Linked DNA regions of Homo sapiens. Each later gene encodes a partner of the first gene's protein in a complex. Each region holds a gene or a part of one and is shown on either strand. Other genes may lie near its edges.

Region 1 (3,500 bases):
GGTTTAAGCGATTCTCTTGCCTGAGTTTCCCAGGTACCTGGGATTACAGGTGTCCACCACCATGCCCGGCTCATCTTTGTATTTCTAGTAGAGACAGGGTTTCGCCATGCTGGCCAGGCTGATCTTGAACTCCTGACCTCAAGTGATCCGTCCCTCTCAGCCTCCCAAAGTGCTGGGATTACAGGCGTGAGTTACCGTGCCTGGCCTTTTTATCATATCAACCTAAAATTTATTTTGAACTATAAAATTTTCTAGGTACCTGGTACTCAGGGAGTATTTGTTAGTCTGAAGATAGTCTGTGGTCGTATAGCTGACATCATAACCAGGGGGAACCAGATAACTTTGTAAGTCATCTGATGGCCTTTACAGAGCTTTTTCTGTTAATGACTATTGATTTTTAACAGTTCATGAGTATGTTTTTTGTTGTTTTGTTTTGTTTTAGAGACAGGGTCTCACTGTGTTGCCCGTACTGGAGAGCAGTGGCGCTGACATAGCTCACTGCAGCCTTGGACTCCTGGGCTCAAGTGATCCTCCTGCCTCAGCCTCCTGAGTAGCTGGGGCTACAGGCATGCACTACCATACCTGGCTAATTTTTTTATTTTTTGTAGATACGGGAGTCTCACTGTGTTGCCAGGCTGGTCTCAAACTCCTAGGCTCAAAGTACCCACATTGGCCTCCCACACTGCTGGGGATTATAGGCATGAGCCACTGTGTCCAGCCTTGTTTTGTTTTTGATCCCCTGTTATTTGTGTTAGAGTATTTGTTTCAAGTTTGCATGAAGTTTTGCCTTAAAGCTTTTTGTAGCCTCCACATAATGCTGTGGGTATAGATAGAACTGTGGGTATAGATAGACAGAACTTACTGTTGACTGCCTGCATGTCTTTCTCAGTCGTAGTCATTGATTTCCTTAGTGTCACTAGGAGGAAAAGTCTCCCTTAGTGAATCCTACTAATAAGCAACGTCCTTACTAGTGAATATAAAAATATAGTAGACCTTTAAATCCTTAATGGCAAGTGATGCCTGTGGACTTGACATTGATTTCTCTAGGCCTCACATCTTTAGAGTATCCACTTTATCCAAAATGCTTAGTGGTCTGTGCTGGTGCAGACGTTAACTAGCAACAAAAAATATCTGTGCAAAGTACAGATAGCATCAATATAAATTTAACATAATTTAATCTTTAATAGACAAAACAATTTTAGGCTCACTGGAGAAGACGTGTATAGGTTTATTGACCTCTCCAAGAAGTTGTATTTTTTTTCTTTTACTATATATTAAATTATATAAAATAGAGATGGGGTCTTGCCATGTTGCCAAGGCTGGTCTCAAACTCCTGGGCTCAAGCGTTCCTCCCATCTCAGCCTCCCAAAGTGCTGTAATCCTGGCCTGTCCAGAAGTTGTTTTTTTTTTTTGAAGTCTGTTACCAGCTTTAAAAAAAAAAAAAAAAATTTCTTTGTGATTTTCAGCCTGCATTTTTTGAAATTTTACTCGTTTTGCAAAAGGTTTGATCAGGTGGTGTGTATTTTATAGGGCTTTGGCAAACATTTTGGTTTTAGTTTTTATGCATTTAACTAATTTTTGTAGAGTTTTACACTTAAAAGATTTTGTAGTGCAAGAATTTATGTGACATTTTAATACTAAAATATAATTTTTTATGTTTTATGCCCCATATGAGCTTATTTCCATTTTATATAAATCTTATGAAACATTATTTGCTCGACTACAGCATTTTTTGGAATTGCTGACTCAGATTTTATAATTTTCAAATTTTTAATAATTTGACATTTTGACCCACAACATGTTTGAATGTGATTAGTATTTTCTAAGCTCTTCTCTTGTGTTTCCTCAGTTCCCTACACCACGGATATAATCAGTTAGTGGATGAGAAGTATATATTTTAAGTTTCTAATTAAGATAGAAAAGCAAGATAGATGTTGTCTCCAAGCAAATAAAAACCTTATTAGCTAATAAACTAAAATATTTTAAGTGCAAATATTGTTCATTATGCTGTTTTTTAAGTTAAGAAAATCCTAAACTGTCTTATAACTTTTATTAGGTACTTCCTCCTCCAGCTGGTTATGTTCCTATTCGAACTCCAGCTCGAAAGCTGACAGCTACTCCAACACCTTTGGGTGGTATGACTGGTTTCCACATGCAAACTGAAGATCGAACTATGAAAAGTGTTAATGACCAGCCATCTGGAAATCTTCCATTTTTAAAACCTGATGATATTCAATACTTTGATAAACTATTGGTAAGTGATACTAGCAGAAATAAACTATTAATTGTGTTCCAGAATTATAAATCATAACATTTCAACTTCCCTTAACATTTTTTTCTTTTTACTATAGGTTGATGTTGATGAATCAACACTTAGTCCAGAAGAGCAAAAAGAGAGAAAAATAATGAAGTTGCTTTTAAAAATTAAGAATGGAACACCACCAATGAGAAAGGTAAGTCCCAGTTTGTTAAATTGTCATGTTTGTTGCTTATTTATTTAATTAAAAAAAATTTGTAGTTTTTGTAGAGACAGGGTTTTGCCATGTTGCCCAGGCTGGTCTCAAGTGATCCTCCTGCTTTGGCCTACCTCCCAAAGTGCTGGGATTACAGGTGTGAGGCTCTGCACCTGGCCATGTTTATATTTTTAAAAATGTTTTTAATTTTTTCACCAGGAAATGTAGACCACAAAATAGTAGTGAACTATTGGTATAGCCCGCTGTGGAGTGTGGTCTTTCCTTTACTCTCCCAAATAGCCCAAATTGGTAAAGGTTATTTAGAAAGCCTTCCCCATAAAAAATTAACTTTTGGTAGTGTTATATTTTTGTGTTTAGGAATTTATAATTACTGTCTTCATCTTTATCAAGGACATAGCATGAGGGGAAAAAATTTATGTAGTGTGAAGGATTTAACTTTTTTGCTTGTTTTTATTATTAATATTATATATATATTTTTGAGACAGGGTCTTGCTCTCTTGCCCAGGCTGGAGTGCAGTGGTGTAGTCTTGGCTCACTGCAACCTCCGCCTCTTGGGTTCAAGCAATTGTGCCTCAGCCTTCCAAGTAGCTGGGACTACAGGCGTGCACCACCACGCCCTGCTAATTTCTGTATTTTTAGTAGAAACGGGGTTTCACCATGTTGGCCAAGCTGGTCTTGAACTCCTGGCCTCAAATGATTAACCTGCCTCGGTCTCCCAAAGTGCTGGGATTACAGGTGTGAACCACCATGCCCAGCCGTTTGTTTTTATTATTATTTAAATACTCCTGGGCTCAAGAGATCCTCCTGCCTCAGTCTCCGAAAGTGTTGGGATTACAGGTGTGAGCCACCGTGCCCAGCTGGAGTTAGCACAAAATTCTTTGGTTAAAAAAGCTAATAAAAATGCTGAAAAATGAGATTCTCCTTTTTGTTCTTAAGGCCTTTAAAATATGCTTAAAGCTTGAAGATAATTAGTGAAATTATGTGAGGGATTATGTTAACACTATATGTGCCTTGGAAATGGAAGAT
Region 2 (3,948 bases), on another chromosome or scaffold:
GAGGACCTCCGGCAGGATCTCCTGCAATGTGGCCTTCGAGACCTAAGGATGGAGGGAGAAGAAATCGTGACTTCCTCTGCGGGGTGAGCCTGGTGGATCCTGTTCTACCTGCTCCTGACACGGGGCCACCTGGTGAGGTATCAGAGTCATCAGAGGCCAGTTGCTAACAAAACTCAAATTCCCAGGCAGCGGGGTTTTTGACAAGCATCCCACTGACGCTAACTGGCCCCTGGAGGTACCTGCCCCCCACCCCTTATTTTTTTTTTTTAAGACAGAGTCTCACTTTGCCACCCAGGCTGAGTATAGTGGTGTGATCTTGGCTCACTGCAACCTCCGCCTCCCAGGTTGAAGCAATTCTCCTGCCTCAGGTGGGATTAAAGGTGTGCGCCATCACACCCAGCTAATTTTTGTATTTTTAGTAGAGATGGGGTTTCACCATGTTGGCCAGGCTGGTCTTGAACTCCTGACCTCAAGTGATCTGCCCACCTCGGCCTCCCAAAGTTCTGGGATTACAGGCGTGAGCCACCATGCCCGGTCAAAGCTACCCTTTTAATTATTCCTTTTTTTGGTATTTCAGAGTACTAGCTCATTTCATACACGAGGAGCCCTAGGTGGAGAGCTGGGATTCGAATTCAGGTCCTTCTGGCTCTGAGGTCAAGACTGCACAGTAAGCCCTGGCCTGGAGACCTGCTACCCCTGCCTTTCTCTTCGGTGACAAAAGGGCCTAGGGTGCTACCTTCCCAAGTAGGGCAGTGGAGGCCCACAAGGGGCCAGCCTTGACCAGGATAACAATGGCAAACGTTTTATATACTTGCCACGTGCCAGGCACAGTTCCAGAGCTGCACTGCCCAATACGGTAGCCACAGCCACACAGGGCTGCTGAGCGCCTGAAAGGTGGCTAATCTGAACAGGGGTGTGCCTAAGTGTAACATACACACTGGATTTTGGAGACACCTGACAAAAAGAGTGTAAGATATCTCAACACTTTTTTATACCAATGCACACTGAAATAATATTTTAGATATACCAGATAAAGTCAAATGTCACTAAATGTTACTAAATGACACCTGTTTCTTTTTACCTTTTCAACAAAGTCACTGAAACGCTTCAAATTATACATCTTTGTATTTCTATGGAACAGTGCTGTTCCAGATTCTCATCCGAGCCCCCTTGATGTCTCTGTAACAAAGTGTTGCCTGGGCCCGCACAGCTGGGGAGCTCATACCTCGGAGAGGATGTCCACCAGGGCCTTCCGGGGCTGCTCCTGCAAGTGGTTTTGGTACTGGGCCAGGGCCTGCAGCAGCTTCACCGACTTCATCAGTGCCTCCTGGTCCTGGTCCCCACAGAGGGACAGAGGGTATGAGCAGGGCACACGACTGTCCCCCACCCATCCCAAGCCAGCCTACATTCCCCCAGTCCCTCCAAAGCTCTTACCTTCACCAGCCGACCTGACTGAAAGAGGGCGAGCACTCCAAACAGGTTTGCAAAGAGAGCAGGTCTCAGCATTGCCTAGAAAAGGATTCCAGGCACAGGCATGAGGGGCCCTGGAACTCCCCATTCCCCAAGCCTCCCACCCCTGGGGCTGCTGACCTCCCTGGCCCCACTCTCACCTTCTTCACCTGATGCAGGTCATATTTTTCTTGTATCTGCTGCAGGATGCTGCACAAGGGGAGGTCTTCAAAAGACTGTAACAGCTGCCAGGAGTTGTGTGGCAGGAGGAAGAGGGTTCAGGAGAGTGGCCCAACTACGTCTTCACAAACCTTAACCTCCCTTCCCCCTTCAACTTCTCCCAAGAAGCCTCAGGTCCCTAGTCCCACCTTCTATGTACCTTCTATGGCCCCTAGATTACTAGTCTGAAATGCTCAGCCACTGGGTCTTCTCTCCGCACGTGGTCTGAGCTCCCCTCAGGCTGATCCTGCAGGCCTGGGTCTTTATTGCTCTGCCCCTTGTCAAGGCGCCTCAGAGAGTGGTCTACTCCAATCAGCTGAATGCCTCTGCAGGCCTAAGGGAGCCCACCCAGCGCTCACTGCTCCCAGAAAGTGTACCTAAGAGGCCGGGCAACCCAAGCACCAAATAGAAAACCTGGCCAGGCCTTGCTCACACCTTCTCCACTTTCATGAAGAGGCCTCCCTCAGGTTGGCCTCCAGTCTGCTCTGCCACTCCCGACCTCTCTCTCGGGCTGCCCCTCCGCCACAGCTGAGACACCACACCCGCCCTCCTCATACCCCACCATTTTGACCTGGATGGCTGGGACCCTGCCAGGAGCACCACCTCACCTGTGCCAGGGCCAAACTGTAGCAGGGCCGGGCTGTTTCTCGCCCGACCCCGAGTCCCGTGATTAGACGCTTCAGGGCATATTTCATCTCGGACCCCTGCGGAACCAAGCACACCCTCGTGTTCAATGGTGACAACAAGGTGCACGCCCCCGCGCACCCTGGCATCCAGGTTCGCGACCACGTGCCCCCAGTCTCAACTCCCTGGGCCCGCCGCCGCTTCCTTGCCGGGATATGCGCAGCCTCTGCCCCAGACCCCGCCACTCCACCTTCGGCCTGCCACGCAGATACTCCAGCAGCTTCTCCGTGGCCGCAAGTCGCGTCTCCTGCTCAGGCTTCGCAATGTCCCAGAAGAAGTCCAAGAACTCGCGACTGTGCTTCAATAGGCCATAGCGGTCGGCAGGCCGGGCGCCACTCTGCGTCGCTTCTCCAGGCGACATCGGCTGGGCGGGATCCCGGCTCTCCATCTCCGCCACACTCACCGAAACACGAAACACGTGTGCTCCGGCCCCAGCCGCTTCCAGGTCAGGGCACGGCGCATGCGCACCGGTTTGTGTCGGCTCGGAGGCGGAAGAACCCGGAGGGGCGGGGGAACCAAGAGAGACCGGCCCAGAGTTAAAAGAGCGGCATTTCCGCCGTAGCTCTGAGCGGAAGTCCCTCGCCTAGCGGCGTCCCATCTTTCCCAGCCTTCTGCTCACACCCGCTCCGCCCTGGCGGCTGTGGCATCTGCCCCTTTGGAGCCCCAGGGGGGCATTTCTAAGGGCCCATCTCGGAAACAAACCTAGGTGTAGCACTTCGATCCGACTCGTCCCAGAGCGGCCCCTGCGCTCCGAACATTGAGCCATTCAACAATTACTGGGCTCCTGCTGGCGTGCCGTGCTAGGCGGTTGGAACAAAGCCTCTGCTCTCGTGGAGGAACACGGAGCCAAATGCATTTAAAAAGATCATAATTATGAAGAGAATTAGGAATGCAAGGGTCAGGAGGAGGCTTTTAAGTGCTGGAACGTGAATACATCACCCGTTAAAAACACGGCTAATTACTATTCAATAGGGTCTCCAATAATGATTTGAGGGGTTGGTCAGGGAAGGCCTCTGTGAGGAAGTGGCATTTGGGATGAGAGCTGAGTGACAAGAAGGGCCCCCCTCCCCCGTACTCCTGCAAGGATCTAAGGGGACGAAATCCCAAGCCTTGCAACTACAGAGACCCAGGGCTGGAGGGGCTGAGGCTGGCGAGAAGCAAGGCTGCATGGGGCCCCGGGCTGGGATTTCATTCTGAGGGTGATGGGAAGTCACTGGTGAGTTTAATGCAGGGGCAAGCCTGGATCCGATTTACATTTTAACAAGATGATGCTGGCTGCTGTGTGGGGGATGGACTGTAGGTCTGCGCAGGTGGAAGCACGGGAAGACCATTTAGAGATAGTGGTGGACTGGACCCAGGGAAAATGAGAACAGGTCAGATTTGGGCTGATGTGGAGCAGGTGGGGTGGGTGATGGAGTTAGATGTCGGGGGAGAGGAAATGAGGGGGATGCCAGGTTTGAGACTGAAATAACTGGGTACATTGTGGTGCCATTACGGAGAAGAATTTTCTTGGGAGTGGGAGGTAAAGGTGGTGGGATCAAACGGTCTATTAAATCAGAGAAGCCTTTTACAATGGCAGGGGAGGGGAACTGCTAC
Region 3 (3,500 bases), on another chromosome or scaffold:
GAAAATGAGTTGATTACAGTAAACAATAAATTTAATTTTTAAGTGCTTTCTCAAGGAAGTTTTGCTAAATTCTAAAATTGAAAACCATAAAATTACCTAACATCAAGAATGTTAAAATGCGCATTACAGAATTAATATTTATTTCTGGGATTGAGCATCTTTTATATTCTTTTATTTCTACCTTTGTTACTTTATTTTCTGCAATAAGCAGAAACATTAAGGTAAAATTCCATAACATAACCTTAAGGTATCCAATTGTGTAAATGTTTGTGATAACTTTAGGCAATATTTTTCTTGCAGAGACTAGAACGACAGGTCCTTTACCTCCCAGGAACCTCCAGTCTAGGGGTCACTGTCACCTACACAAAAATTAAGAAAAAGTGGCTGCTTTGTATAATATGGTACTCTTGAGCTCTCTGCAAAGAAACCACAGGATAACCTAGATTGCTCCAACAACGTACCCTTCTAAAGGCACACTAGGAAACAGCAAAATTAGGTCACTCCAGGAACTTGAAGTTGGTGGATCAAAGACATTTCTCAGAGAAGATTCTCTATAAGAAATCGTGAATGCATACACATATCCTTGCTATGTGAGATACTACCATTAACAACTATTATCAGAACCTTAATCCATGTGGATAAATTCTTTGATAGCACCGTTTGGAGAAAAGGTAACTCTCACTGTCCAAGCTCTTACTACTTGTTACATGATCTCCAGGTCTCAAATGTATTAGAAAAACATAATATCCCTCACAATCTCAGCTCAGAAACCAGACACAGGTAGCAAGGATGTAATCTGTATATCGAATTATTAGTATGAGGACTGAAACAGGTTCTGGATAAATCTATCCAGGAAAGTGAAAAGATGTTAAGTTATTCAAGCAGCCAATAAAAAAAAAAATGCAATTCCCAAAAGTAAACGAGGAGTTTTAAAACCAAAATCCAAAAAGTAGTAATATACAAATGCCTTAGAGTTTTCCTATACTACTCCAAAAATAGTTAAATCTATTAATCAAAATCCAGTGTCAACAGCATTATCTCTTTTTGGAAACAAAATCTGATTAACAAATAAAATAAGGTAAAGTACAATAGAAGGATAGGAAAGCAATCAATGATTAATGTTGTGTTGATTAAACCATTGAGAAATTGTTAAAGAGGAGAAAAAGGAAACTTCTTGTAGCATAGAAAATAGCTCTAGGCCAGACATAGTGGCTCATGCCTGTAATCCCAACACTTTGGGAGGCCAAGGTGAGAGGATCACATGAGCTCAGGAGTTTGTGACCATCTTGGACAATATAGTGAGCCCTTGTCTCTAAGAAAATGTAAAATTTAGCCACACATGGTAGCATACACCTATAGTCCCAGTTACTTGGGTGGCTGAGGTGAGAGGATCACCTGAGCCCAGGAGGTCAAGGTTGCATTGAGCCATGATTGTACCACAACACTCCAGTCTAGGCAACAGAGTAAAACGCTGTCTCCAAAAAAAAAAAAAAAAAAAAAAAAAAGAAAATAGCCTGAGCTCGATACTATCAGATTAAGGAGTAATCATCACAGAATCACATATGAAAAACTGACATAAGAGTTAAGATTCTATATGACAAGAAAAAACAGATTCTCACAGTGTGGTTCAAGGACTTTGGGGTTTCCTGAGACCTTTTTCGGAGTCTCCGAGGTAGAAACTATTTTCATAATAATAGCAACACTATTTATCTGCTCTTTTCACTGTGTTGACATTTGTACTAATTGCAAAAGCAAAGGAAAGCAAAGGTGGGTAAAATTGATGGCACCTTAGTACTAATCAAGGAAGCAACATATATTAGTCACTGTATTCCTCACAACCACACACCAGCAGAAACAAACAAGGCAAATGGTTTCACTTAATAATGTCCTTGATAAAACAATAAATACTGTGTTAACTCTCAAGTACATGTCTTTCTAATATCTGTGACAAAATGGAAGATATACATAAATATGGCTACAACTGAAGTTCAATGGTTTTCTGAAGGAAAAGCATTTGTGTATCTGAGTTGTGAGCTAAACACGCTCCAAGCTCCTTTTTCATAGAACCCCACATTTTTTTTTTTTTTTTGAGACAGTCTCGCTCTGTCGCCCAGGCTGGAGTGCAGCAGCACGATCTCGGCTTACTGCAAGCTTCACCTCCCAGAGAACACCACTTTTTAAAAGAACAAATATGGCTAACTCAGACTTAGGTATTTGATAGAGATGTTTTCAAACATGAACAAGGTGAGCTTGTCACTTCAAGGAAAACTGAGAGCATTTATCGCCAATGATAAACGTTATGATTTCAAGTGGGAACTAGAATTCTGGAAAATTCACATCTACTACTGTGAACTTGATAGTTTACCAAGGCCTAAGTAATTTTTCTGATGAGATGATATTTATATTAATGAGCATGATTTAATGACAGTGTTCAATAAAACGTCAACATTTGGAAGACATAATTCAGGGAACCAATATTTACAAGCGGTAAATGCATGTTACAAAACTATACATACAAGACCCAAGTTAATTAACCTGGTTTCAGACCTACATTAAACATTACAACTAATCTTTAGGAAACTACAACTTATGTAGAGTTTTGGTATTGTATGGTATCAAAAAGAGAATATACACAATTATCTAAAAAGACTTTAAAAATATTCTTTTTATGTGAGGCTCGGTTTTCTTCATATACTTATTATTTTGAGAGAGGATCTCATTCTGTCACCTAGGATGGAATGCAGTGGCATGAAAATAGCTCACTGCAGCACTGACCTCCTGAGTTCAGGCTTCCACCTCAGCCTCCCAAGTGGCTGGGATTACACGAGCGTGCCTCAGCGCCTGGCTAATTTCTTCTTGAGACAGTCTCACTCTGTCACCCAGGCTGGTCTTGAACTCCTGAGCTCAAGTGATCCACCTGCCTCGGCCTCCCAAAGGGCAGGGATTACAGGCATAAGCTACTGCATCAGGCCCTTCATAGATTTTAAACAAAACAATACATTGCAAAAGACTGAATGCGGCCAGGCACGGTAGCTCACGCCTGTAATCCCAGCACTCTGGGAGGCCGAGGCGGTCAGATCACCTGAGGTCAGGAGTTCGAGACCAGCCTGGCCAACATGGCAAAACCCCGTCTCTATTAAAAAGACAAAAATTAGCCAGGTATGGTGGCACACGCCTATAATCCCAGCTACTGTAGAGACTGAGGCAGAAGAATTGCTTGAACCTGGGAGACAGTGGTTGCAGTGAGCAGAGATTGTGCCACTGCACTCTAGCCTGGGCAACAGAGTGAGAATCTGTCTCAAAACAACAGTAACAACAACAGTAACAACAACAACAACACAAAAAGACTGAATGCAGAAGCAAATGGTAATCAAGCTGTTTTCTCTTAAGCCAGACATTAAACAGATGTACAAAAACATAAAATGCCACTCTTTCATTCTTTTGAAAAGTTATTTTTCCTAGAAAATATTATTTTTAACATTTTAAAATAAAAATTTTTC
Region 4 (3,500 bases), on another chromosome or scaffold:
ACCAAAGATGACACTTACTCTGAACTCTGCTACATTACACAAAAAAGCCCTGAGCACTCACCATTGCAGTTCTGGACTTAAGAAACCAGTCAAATCTGAACTGAGGAGAGTTGCGAATACACTGTCGCAATTCATCATAAACATTTTCTTTGTCAAATCCAAGTTTGTGAAGCATACAAATCAGAAAACGATCTTCTTCTTCAGTATAGTTTTTTCCTTTGTTAGTACCATATGATATTCTCAGCTGATGAAAAGGTGCTTTGTACCGTCCAATCTATGAAAGTCAGATTTTATATTATATAAAATACAAATCCTATATAATCTGTATTTCAAACTCAGCTTTAGTATAATTAGCTAAAATGTTGCATTTCAAATCAGAATTTTCTATCTAGAGCACTTCAATTGCTTTATATAATCTTTGTCCCGAAAGACCTTTATAGTCTTTATTATTATAAAGAGAAATACAGACTAAGACTTCCTGATTCTACTTAGTAAAAAGCTAATCTTAGTGTCTTTGACTCAGATCTATCAGTCTAGTGTATAGGTAAATTCTGCTGACAATACCATGTTTGAATGCTACTCTGAAGAAATTTTAAATTGTAAACCCTTACTTCTTTTCCTTTATAAAAAGTCACTCTCTCATACTCACAGCTAGGAGTTATTTTATTAACTACCTAACTTATTAACAAGCAAATTACCTTTGTGTCAAGTGCTTTCTTGATGCTTATTCTTCTTTGAATTCTCGCCTCTCCCCTTTCAATCTGAGCCATAATCTTCTCTATGTCCTGGAGCTCGTTGCACCTTTCCCAAAACACAGCTGTAAAAGTTGGACAAAGTAAACAAATCATTTATATTTTTATTTCTTTAATGTAAAAAAAATGGGATCAACTGGATTATTTATCTTCTAATTCTTAAATTTCTGCTATTCTAAGCAGACTCACCACAGCATACCCTCACATGTTAACCTAATAATACAACTGACTTCAGGAAACACAACACATAATACTTGAAGTTATGCAGAGAAATTAAGATAAAAATGCAAGGGCAATTATCCAGTGACTTATTCTGATTTTCTTTGCTGTCGCTAGAGTTAGCTAGGGTTAAAAAATTTTTAAAAAGGAAACCATTACGCCATTTCTGGAAACAGAACATTTTCTAATTTGTAAAAAATAATGAAGAAGGTACTAACTACACTGTGACAAAATTAGCTAATCACAACATAATTCAGAATAAGAAAACAAGAACCTTCCAACAGCTCTTACTAAACTCCAACAGCCTGCTTAAAAGAATTACCTGAATATTCAATGACTTCTTCTGGAGTTTTGCCTTCTACTTCTCTTGCTATATTTTCAATATCATCACGACCCCACTTCTCATTAGCTTTGATAAACTGGTTAAAATCTCTCTTATTCCAATTGGTAAATCCCTTCACAGGAACAGAAACAAAATATTTAATCACAGCACATTAAACTTGGAAAACATGCTATTAGCAAACCTTCTAAATATTACAAAAACAAATTTTCACTAGTTTATTAAGTTCTTTTAGAGTGGTAACTTTTCGTGTACATAAATATACACTTTTGACAACACATTATATATTGCTCAAATACCCAAGCAATTAAATATGAGTGGCTGAGAGTAAGGAATACTGTATGAAAAGGTGACAGTTTCACTGAGCTTTGAAGGATTACTAGCAGTTGGCCAGAAAGAGTGAATAACATAAAGGGCAAAAATATGAGCAAGTAGAAAAATGGAAGGAAAATGAAGCTTTAAAGGTAAGTCAAAGGCCAGATTCTGAAAGACCTTGATGAACACCAAAGGATGTTTAAAAAATAACCAAGCCAAGATTTATAGTTGAAAATGGTGACTGGGTAGCAATGTGGAAAATTCATAGGAAAGACGGGAACATTCAAAGTAAGGTGATAAAAAAGATACCCACTCTACCGAGCCAGAGTAATAAAATCTGTAGTCTTCTCAACTACCTCAACTAGTGACAATCAGATGGAGCATTTATCCACATGCCCATACTTTATTGTCTCCAATTATTCCATCTTTAAAAGCAGAAACTTGTATTTATTTTTATGCCCCAACATAACCTAACACAGTCCTTTACAACAAACTGTTACTAAAGTTTGTACTGATTAAAGGCTATACCTGTGTTAGAAGCTTCTCTTTTTCCTCTAACTCTTCATCATTAAGGGATTCAGCTTCATCAATTTTAAGCTGTTCTTCTTTTTGTGCCTGTGCTGCATTAGGCAGCTCAGGATTTCGAGGTACCTAAAAGATATTTTTCTATGCCATCAAATCAGTAAATTTTAAAGAGCATGTGATGAACCAACTAACTGACATTTCACAAGTTTCAATTCAACCAGGAAAGAAAATATACTGATACATTGCATGTATTATGTTAAAAACAAACCAGATTGGTCATGAAGTCTTATTTTTTCTTGTTAAAGAAAAACAGACCCAAGTTTATGTATTTCATACATACAACTAGACTAGGCTAAAGCAGTATTGTTTCACACTAGGTCCAAATTAGATAAATATTTATAACTAATGTTTATACCTTCCATAATTTCTGGATAGGAATGAACAGAAAGGCAGATAATTTCAATTACCTTGTACCCAATAGTTTTTCTGTAAAACAGAATTTCTTTTTCCAGTAATTCAAATAAACGTGGAGGAAAGAACTGGAAATCCTGAACATTGGGTTGTTTTGGAGGTCGAGGAGCCTAAAGAAAAACAAAAATAAGTGTTATCCATAAAAAAGAAATTTCATTTTAAATGTATCCTTAGTCCTCACTTCATAAACCACAACAGCCAATTCTGCAAGCAACTGAATGCATCTTTCAATAAAACTGAATTTATATCTTAATTTTAAATGCACAGATTCAAAATTAATTTTTGAAAAATGTTAACTAAAAACAGAAGAGAGTACACTCTAAAGAAATGCAAAATGTAGGAAAGAGGCAGTGGCTCACGCCTGTAATCCCAATACTTTGGGAGACCAAGGTGGGCGGATCATGAGGTCAAGAGATCAAGACCATCCTGGCCAACATGGTGAAACCCCATCACTACTAAAATTACAAAAATTAGCCAGGGGTGGTGGTGGGTGCCTGTAGTCCCAGCTACTCGGAAGGGTGAGGCAGGAGAATTGCTTGAACCCGGGAGGCGGAGGTTGCAGTGAGCTGAGATCGCACCACTGAACTCCTGGTAACAGAGTGAGACTCTGTCTCAAAAAAAAAAAAAAAAAAGAAACACAAAATCTAATTATCAATCTTTTTGCAAGAATATATGAAAAAAATTACATTTTCAAAATTTTTAGATATTTTTATGCTGTGTCAGTCAACTCACCTTGGGTGCTTTAGGTTCACTAACACGAAGAGCTTCCCTGAAATATGCATCAACGGCATAGTTGGCTTTTCTTTCTCGTTTAGGTGGTTCAATCCACTCTGTGAATGCAATCTAGCACATGGGAAACAACTCAAATCACCAACTTT

Evidence for each region. Proteins that work in one complex are often made in the same cells at the same time.
Region 2: SF3B1 (region 1) and MYBBP1A share a complex: the UniProt entries of both Homo sapiens proteins name them as parts of the B-WICH complex.
Region 3: SF3B1 (region 1) and DEK share a complex: the UniProt entries of both Homo sapiens proteins name them as parts of the B-WICH complex.
Region 4: SF3B1 (region 1) and SMARCA5 share a complex: the UniProt entries of both Homo sapiens proteins name them as parts of the B-WICH complex.

What each region holds. Positions count from the first base shown.
Region 1 is NC_000002.12:197,404,029-197,407,528, reverse strand, and holds part of SF3B1 (splicing factor 3B subunit 1), read left to right. Parts: intron 1-2,056; coding exon 2,057-2,254; intron 2,255-2,351; coding exon 2,352-2,453; intron 2,454-2,674; exon of another isoform or gene 2,675-2,811; intron 2,812-3,500. UniProt on the Homo sapiens protein: Component of the 17S U2 SnRNP complex of the spliceosome, a large ribonucleoprotein complex that removes introns from transcribed pre-mRNAs.
Region 2 is NC_000017.11:4,552,585-4,556,532, forward strand, and holds the start of MYBBP1A (myb-binding protein 1A), read right to left. Parts: upstream 2,801-3,948; 5' UTR 2,741-2,800; coding exon 2,543-2,740; intron 2,373-2,542; coding exon 2,277-2,372; intron 1,695-2,276; coding exon 1,611-1,694; intron 1,510-1,610; coding exon 1,435-1,509; intron 1,334-1,434; coding exon 1,226-1,333; intron 43-1,225; coding exon 1-42. UniProt on the Homo sapiens protein: May activate or repress transcription via interactions with sequence specific DNA-binding proteins. Repression may be mediated at least in part by histone deacetylase activity (HDAC activity).
Region 3 is NC_000006.12:18,251,031-18,254,530, forward strand, and holds part of DEK (protein DEK), read right to left. Parts: intron 1-3,500. UniProt on the Homo sapiens protein: Involved in chromatin organization.
Region 4 is NC_000004.12:143,544,702-143,548,201, reverse strand, and holds part of SMARCA5 (SWI/SNF-related matrix-associated actin-dependent regulator of chromatin subfamily A member 5), read right to left. Parts: intron 3,466-3,500; coding exon 3,355-3,465; intron 2,733-3,354; coding exon 2,619-2,732; intron 2,278-2,618; coding exon 2,155-2,277; intron 1,427-2,154; coding exon 1,294-1,426; intron 818-1,293; coding exon 699-817; intron 275-698; coding exon 62-274; intron 1-61. UniProt on the Homo sapiens protein: ATPase that possesses intrinsic ATP-dependent nucleosome-remodeling activity.